2 separate regions of the Homo sapiens genome follow, and region 1 is linked to region 2. Evidence: fine-mapped expression QTL. Tissue or cell type: nasal epithelium. Region 2 holds a variant in brackets; the other region holds the start of a gene. All regions are shown on one strand. Distances are from middle to middle. Region 1 holds the start of PRELID2 (PRELI domain containing 2). Region 2 holds the start of GRXCR2 (glutaredoxin and cysteine rich domain containing 2).

Region 1 (4,225 bases), 37 kb before region 2:
GTTTAACAAATGACCTTCATCTTCCCAGCATCTCCCTTAGTTTGGCTTCCGGGTTGCATATGGAGTTCAATGTCCCGTGGCTGCTAACCAAGGCAAATTGCAACTGTTGCAAATTTTGCTTATGAAAACCGAAGGGGACCTTCAAAGATCATCTGGTACAACCCCTTCATCTTATAGATGTGGAAACTAAGGCCTAGAGAAAAGACCCTCAGCCAAGGTCACCCAGAGAACTAACCACGCATAGAACCAGATCAGAGTCCAGGAGTCCTGCCTCCCAGGCCTGGGCGCTTTCGATTTTTCAAAGACATTTCCCATTTTCCTATTATCAGGACCCACAATCCTAGAAACAGTCTTTGGGATTCAGGGCTCCTCAGTATTGAGGAAGAGTTCATTATCTGTATTGAAATCGGTTGTAGTAATACAAACAACAATAACATTTTAGAGCCCTAACTAAACATCAGTAGCAGTGAGAAAAAGAAAAATAGCTCAGAGCAGATTGTGTGAGTTACAGTGAAATATGCAAAATCAATCAAGCCCAGAGAGACAAGAGTATAGGACTTTAGTGGTCCCCTCCTCACCCAACCCATTCCTGGGAGCAACTGGTTAAAGGCATTTTGTTCCTGACCAGCTGCCTTACCCATTATCTTCAAGTTCCTGGAATTTGTGATACAAAGAACAATGTACAGACAATCAATAGTTTATGTTATTTTAATATAAATTCTTGGTAAACAACTTAGGAAGTGCTTCTTATTCTCCTTTAAAAACCCACTTTCGACTTCTGCTCATCAGAATGTATACTCAGGGCACCTTCACTCCCAGGATGCAGCCCTCAAACTTGGCTCGAATGAACTCTCTTTTTATATTGATTTTGCCTCAGTTTCTTCATTTAGGTCACAACTGTGCTAAGCACTTTACACAAGTTACCTCATTTGGATCCTCACAACAACTCTATGAGTCGGTACTATTATTTTCCCCATTTTACAGATTAGCAAACTAAGGCACAAAGAGAGTAAGCAACCTGCACGATGTCCCACAGCTGTTTAATAAGGAGCAGCGGATGGGGCAGCAGAACCATCATGCTGAGTAAACCAGGATGACTGCCCAATGGCCTCCCCTCGCTTTTAAGGGGTCAGTGATGAACCGGAAAGCTCCACACGTCGGTCATCTGCAACTCCACGGAGCTCACGAGCTGGGATTCCCGGAGGCTCTTCCTAAAAGGAAAGCCTCTTCTTTCAGCTGGGGCAGGTGTGAACGTGATGCCAAGCACGGCCCCTTTTCCCGCTCCCTGTAAAGGGAGTCTTCGAGGAAATCCCTCTCGACCCACACATCCCTGAAGCAAAGCCCGCAGCTGGAAAGAGACACTGGCGGTGCCAGCTTCCGCGTGGATGAAGGAGAGGAGAGAGGGGCAAGCAGCGGAGGCAGCGCGGGATACGGAAGGTGGAAGCGGGGCGGTACCTTTCGGAGAAAGCTGGCGACCACCTGCTCGAAGGGGTACTTGTACACCTGGTGCACATCCACCGAGACCCCCATCCCCGCGCGCCGCGGGCCCCGCGCACCGGCCACGCCTCCGCGAGCTCAGAGCTGCCCAGGGCTCCGCAGAGGCCCGGAGGCGCCCACACTCGGACAGCCACATGGGCGTGGCCTTTTTCCTCCGCTTTTCAAACTTTCGAAACTTTATTGGCCACTCGGAGAAACGCGCAGTCGGCCACGCCCACGCCCCTACTGCCAGAGTCCGGGGCCTGGGGTTACAGAGCGCGGGAGGCGCTGGAGCGCTCCCAGAGCACCCGGGGCCCCGCGGTCTCCACGCTGGCGGCGCCAGAGCGGCCCTGGTGCCCTCCCGCGGCCGCGCCTGCCGAGAAAAGCTTCTCTGCCTGGGAGCCATCACGCCCCGCCCCAGGAAACCTGGACCTTGGGCTTATGCGTTTATGGTATCACCGCCTGGAGTCACAGAATAAGCCGTGGTTGGCAGCACGGGAAAAAAGTATTAATAAGGAAGGCCTGGTGTGACAAAGGCCAGCATTACTCATGCCACCAGGCAGCTGCCTCTGAGGCTTGGGTTTGGGCCTCGTGTAAGGTAAAGATTGCCTCGGGAATAAGAACCGCGTTTTAGTGCACCAAAACCTGCAGGTAAGTTCCTTTGCTCGCTAAGGTTAAACACCACGGAGCAAGGAACTAGAGGATACAAAAGAGTTGCGAGTATTATTATTTACTGCAACCAACAGATGTTAGGAGAACCAGCACGTTAATCCGTGTATTCAGCACGGTTCTGAGGCCTCCTATGCCCCAGCGCTGTAGTGGGCACTGCGGATTCCGCAGGGAGGAAACACCAGCTCTGCTGATGAGCCGGCTGATTTCACACCCAATCAACAAGCTGGGAAAATAAAAACAATAATCGGTTAAAGTGACACGGGCGCGGACATGATTTTAGTGAGGGTGATTATGGAGGGTCTCTGAGGTGATGACTTTTACGATTTTGCCATCTCGCTCGCCCCTGCCATACGCAGTCACACTGGTCTGGCAAAACCCTAGCCTTGTGTAAATCTAGGTCTCCTCTGACTGTCTCTACCCAAGCCACCAGAAGGGGCTGAAGGAAAATACACACCCACTGTGCATCTTTTAAGTTCATAACCACTAACCCTATGGCGCCTTTTAATGGTGCCAGACAAATACACTATGAAAGTACTGTATTTCTGGCTGGGTGCGGTGACTCACGCCTGTAATCCCAGCACTTTGGGAGGCCAAGGTGGGCGGATCGCCTGAGGTCCGGAGTTCCAGACCAGCCTGGCCAACATGGTGAAACCCTGTCCCTACTAAAAATACAAAAATTAGCCAGGCGTGATGGCGGGCGCCTGTAGTCCCAGCTACTCCGGAGGCTGAGGCAGGAGAATCGCTTGAACCCGGGAGACGGAGGTTGCAGTGAGCAGAGCTCGCCCATTGCACTCCAGCCTAGGCGACAAGAGCAAGACTCCATCTCAAAAAAAAAAAAAAAAGAGAGTACTGAATTTCTCTAATCCACTTACTCTCCCGCATTCCTCCACACCTCTGACACCTTTGTTCCCAGCCTTATACTCCAGTCATTACCTTACTTCCATTTTCACTTAGTCAATAGGTCACATCGCTCTGCCACCTCTCTACCCACCAGACCAAATGCCTTGCCTTCACTCTTGTTCCTGTGGGTGAACTGTCAGCACTTTGTTTTAGCACCAGTGTCTCCATTTGTCCACTGAATCCTGAGGTGAACTGAAAAATGTTTAACAAATAGCTGTCCTTTAAAGTATAAATCAAGCAAGGCCCTGATTTCCAAAGGTTGCTGATTCCTGTGGTGTAAATACTCCTACCATGTTTAAAGATGCCAACTCGATGTCACTAAACACAAGTTGGGGATTTAGCAACATGGAGTTGAGTGAGGAGTGGGAGTTGGGGAGGGAAGCACAGAAGCACACCATCACATAGTATTTCCACCACCCACATACGACAGCCATAAAGAACCAAAAACATAAATAATGGAAAATGTAGCAGGAAGGGATGAGTTTTCAATGTTTATTACTCTTTGGCCAGGCTCCTATGGTTCATGCCTGTAACCTCAGCACTTTGGGAGGCCAAGGCAGAAGGATCACTTGAGGCCAAGAGTTTGAGGCCAGTGTAGGCAACATAGTGAAACCCCATCTCTACAAAAAATAAAATAAAAAATTAGCCAGGTGTGGCAGTGCACACCTGTAGTCCTAGCTACTTGAGAGGCTAAGGCCAGAGGCTCTATTAAATCCGGAAGTTCAAGGCTGTAGTGAACTATGATCGTGCCATGCACTCCAGCCTGGGCCACAGAGTGAGACCCATCTCAAATAAATAAATATTTATTAATTTTTATATGTGATTGTAAATTTATATACTTTAATAATAGCTGTGTTGAATGGCCAGCTCTAGTACATCACTAAAAGTTCCTGTCCTCTTTCTTGTTCAAGGCCATCTCTCTAGCAATATCCCCCTTCCTTTCTGTATCATCAGCTTTTGTCTCTACTGGGCCATTCCAGCCAGCACAACAAGTACACTGTAATTTCTTCCATCTAAAAACAAAAACAGAAACAATACAAAAAAAACAACTCTTAACCCCCTATCTTCCTCCAGCTGTATTCCGAGTCTCTGGTCCACTGATGCTCCTCAAAAGAGCTGCCTGTAATCTCTTGAGCCCATTCCAATCAGTATTTGCCCCCACCACTTCACCGAAACG
Region 2 (4,523 bases):
AAGGGTCAACCACATTGTGCATGTGTCAAAATGGCCTTCCTTTTCAAGACTGAATAATATTGTGTTGTATGTACATACCGCATCTTGTTTATCCATTCATCAGTCTATGGACATTTGGGTTCTTTCCACCTTTAGGCAATTGAGAATAATGCTGCTATGAACAATGTTGTACATATATCTGTTTGAGTTCAGAGCCCTTGCTTTGAATTATTGCACTTAATTGCTACCCAATGTGGTCTCATAGCCAATATTTACTAGGAAGTGTTTTACATTTGGATTCGTTATTGAAAAGTCATGACATTAGCTCTCATTTTCTTCTTTTTCATAAATACCACATTGACAAATGATTCCAGGGTGTGCAGCTACATGAATCCATCCTGGTCACTCTCATGCTCAGAATCTGGCTATGATTGGGATGGGGCACTTGATCAGGAAACAAAGAAAACAGAGATAATGAGGCCAAGCAGGAATCAGACCTTCAACATGGCCTCTAAAACACATAGAGTACTGTGTTTTAACCAACTGAGCCATGCTGCCATGAAGACTCATTTACCTAGATTTATAAATTCTATAGTCCTAGCTACCAGAGAGGCTGAGGCAGGAGGATCCCTTGAGCCCAGGAGTTTGAGATTGCTGTGAGTTATGATCATACCACTGCACTCCAGCCTGGTTGACAGATGAGACCCTGTCTCTAAAAAAGAAAAAAAAAATTATACATTTTCATAAATGCTAAATTTAGCACATGACTTATGAAGATCAAGCAACCCAAAATTTATCTACTGTGGCCTTGCATAAGGTTTGCATGAACTGTGACTTTGTAAATTCTAAATCTACAAATAAGACATAGTTAAAAAGAAATAGTATAAGTACAAGACTAGCCAAGTGCCTAGGACCTAATAAGCACTCAACAAATGGTAGCTATTATTATTATGTAATAATATGGTTCTCTAAAAAAAGGAACATGCCCTAAAGCAAAACATTTGTAGCATCAGAAGATCTGGATTCTTATTCTGACTCTGTACCCAATGACCCTGTAGTATCAGATGGATCCCTTAACAACTTGGCACTCAATTTTTCTCTTCTGCAAAATGGGAATGACCATACTTTGGCCTTTCTCCCCAAGGTTATAGTAAAGACCCAATGCCATAGATATAGACAGAGATAGTACATGATGACACTTTGTACTGCATACGTCACCCCATTAAGATAAGAGGTCATTCATTTCAGCCCCTTTTAATATCAAAAACAAGCCTAGTGTTATCTTCGGTAATTGTGAACATGCCCATAATTATACTTTTACCAATGCCAGTAAAGCCAGTAATACATTTGTCTGCAATAGATGTGTTATCTATTCCCTTAGGAAACTAACAATAAAAATAATTCAAGAGTAATTATCTGGCTTTCACACTTTAAAGATGAGAACACATCCTGGTGTGCTATTCATTAATAACGTGGATACATTATATAATTGTATTTTATCTTTTTTAAGAAGTCATTCATGGTCCCACTGACAGCATATATACATCTCCTATGAATTTTTGGATACCAGTGTATGTTTTCCAGGTTCTACCTTAAAAGAAAATCATGTATGGACTTTTGATTATCCATGGTACTGGGAAGTAATTGAAATTCATAGATTAAACACATTCTTCAATCGAACCATTAGCTCAAACTTCTTCCTCACATAACATATCCTCTGGCTGATTTGCGTTTCACCATCCCTTCCCAGGACTCCAACTACCCAGAGCTTATGCTAAGGAGCAATGGAAAGGAAAAATAAATAGACAAAGCAGGCAGTATGAGGAAGGCAATAGGGGTAAAAAACAAGACATGGATAAACTGCAAGCTGAGTAATTGGCTGGAGTAAAATGAGCACTTTCAAATACTCAGCTCTTTCAGGAAACAAAATGACTGCATAATTGTCTAAAAC[C/T]GCAGTCTGACAACCTGAAAACCACTGCACCTCTATTTAATTTACATTCCAGGAAAACTCAGTCAAAGATCCAATTACAATGTATTACCTTGGATGGAATTTGAATACTATATATGCTCATTGCACTTTCCAATTAGTAGTCAACAAGCATGTTATTTTTACCCCAGAAATATTCGTCTAATAACAACTTCCCATTTGGTGCACCAACAGTTCTGGTTGGTACCGGAGGGGGAGCAAGACACAAATCTGAACCATTTAGGAGTTTCTCTAAACACGTTTTAGGAAGCCCTACCCTTAAAGCCTATATGCCATGCACAATACCAACCTTATGGTCATTCGCCTTGTAATCGTTGAACCGAGGCTGGCCGCCTGCCAAGGTGTAGGCATTACCCTCTCTAAACACACTGATCCTCTGAGCAGTCAGCTTAGGGGAGCACATCTGGGGCCTGGGGACTTCCCCAGACCCATAAACACCATCCATTGTTTCAAGAGACTCTTGCAGAAAACTGTGAGGGTATTCCTCCTTTGGTGACTCTAATTCCTGCCCATCCTCAAAGACCTGCTTCAATACTCGACCGCTGTAGGAGGAGGAGATTTTAAATCGTACTTTCCGGGGTTTGCCATCACTCTTCTGATTCAGCTTTTTCTCAGGGTCCTCCATCAGCAGAAAGTTGACCCTGTGGTCTCCAGCCTTCCGTGCAGCCGGTGAAACTTGGGCCTCTGAGAAAAAGGCATTTTATTTTCTCTCCTCCTGCATATAATTAATTCAAGTTGTTGCTGGGGTATGGTCAGTTTACAGCAACTGACACCCATACATTAAATATTGATAGACCCTCATGAAAAGGCAGGTGATTCTGGTTTGATGGAGTGGATGGAATATAAGACAAGATTGATTCTTCTCATAATCCCAAGCTCACCATGACTTCACCCCAACCCTAACCTTTCTTAACCTGAGGATGAAGAAGTTTATTTAGACTGAACATGTGCCAATTCAATAAGGATCAGACACTCAATTAGTTAACAAGTGTCTTCTTATTGTTAGCAATGACAATTAAAATCTAGTGAGCATTTCATAAGTACCAGAGATTGTTACATGCATTATTTTATTTCATCCTCACGATAACCCTACAAAGAAAATCTTACCTTTGTTTTACACAGGGGAAAGTGAGGCTTAGAGCCACTTGTCATTTATCTTCATCATTTGTCTGCTCTATTACACCTAAGTAAGTGACAGAGCAGGGATTTGAACCCAGATCTATCTGACTCCAAAACCCAAGATCAGCCCACACAACCAGAAGTTTTCCAGTTCTGGTTCTAGAAGAGGGAATGACGTCCTAGATACAGTGGAGGTTCTTGGAGGCTGCTGCTAAGAACAGGAGAAGGCCGAGGGTCCTGGATTCTGGGCCTTCTCCCCCTACGCTAACCAGAGCACCTCCACTTGGTATGTATTTTACATTTAAGATTTCATTTGCAATCACAGCACAAGTCCCCATTGCCTGTTGGACTTCGTAAATGCCTGACACTGAACTAGTGGCTGGAGTGAATAGCACAGAAGCATGTGACCTGGGCCTGAGAACAGTCCTACAATCCCATACAGACCTCACACAGGTGAAATAATAACCTCATGCTTAGAGAGCAAACTGCCCACAGCTGAATCCCAGAATAGCCACTCTGGGAAGGAAGTGGTCTCTAAGGAGACAAGGATGGAAGAAGGTTTGTAAAGAAAAGGGCCCTTGGGCTGGGTAGAAAATGGTAGGTTGGATGTGAGGAGCTGAAAGTGGAGTAAAGCCTTTCTCCCTGTCTTTGCTACCAGCATCACCATTTACTGAGTTACCCAAATTGACCCCTCCTATTCCCCTACAGCCATTCGCTTGGATTCTTTTTTTTTATTATTTTATTTTATTTTTTTTTTTTTGAGACGGAGTCTCACTCTGTTGCCAGGCTGGAGTGCAGTGGTACGATCTCGGCTCACTGCAACCTCCACCTCCTGAGTTCGAGCAATTCTCATGCCTCAGCCTCCCGAGTAGCTGGGACTACAGGCACACGCCACCATGCCCAGCTAATTTTTGTATTTTTAGTAGAGATGGAGTTTCACCATGTTGGCCAGGATGGTCTCAATCTCTTGACCTCGTGATCCGCCTGCCTTGACCTCCCAAAGTGCTGGGACTACAGGCATGAGCCACCGCACCCAGCCCATTCACATGGATTCTTTCACCACTGCCTTCTTTCATCTACCCCTATCACCCTGGCCCTAGGGCAAACCCTCATCACTTTGATTTTTAAAGTTGCAGCTGTCTCCCAAGGACTTCCCTACTCACCCCCAATTCCATTCTCCATATTGATGTGAGAGCAATAGTCCAAAACAACAAATCCACAGGTGTCAGTCTCTTGCTGAAAAATCTTTTCTAGTGCATCAGGGCTTAAGTCTTAACTGTTCCATGTGACAAGCAAAGCCCCTCAAAAACCAGCCTCACCTTCCTTCCTTTCCAGCCTTGCCCTCTGTCACTCTTCCAGGGGCTGCCTGGGATTGGTGTTCCAGTTACACCAACAAGCTTACCCATTTCTCAAACCCACAAGTTTCTGTCTCTTATCC

Evidence for each region. PIP is the estimated chance that this variant, and not a neighbour inherited with it, causes the effect.
Region 1: it holds the start of PRELID2, and the variant in region 2 is the best candidate, but not a certain one, in a credible set for the expression of PRELID2 in nasal epithelium (TOPMed, PIP 0.59).

What each region holds. Positions count from the first base shown.
Region 1 is chr5:145,833,722-145,837,946 of GRCh38, forward strand. PRELID2 (PRELI domain containing 2) reads right to left here and starts at 1,621. Exons shown (of 7, transcript NM_205846.3): 1 at 1,456-1,621. The coding sequence starts at 1,530. RefSeq lists a silencer at 1,813-1,932.
Region 2 is chr5:145,870,378-145,874,900 of GRCh38, forward strand. GRXCR2 (glutaredoxin and cysteine rich domain containing 2) reads right to left here and starts at 2,637. Exons shown (of 3, transcript NM_001080516.2): 1 at 2,256-2,637. The coding sequence starts at 2,591. The variant C/T (reference allele first, on the strand shown) is at 1,931.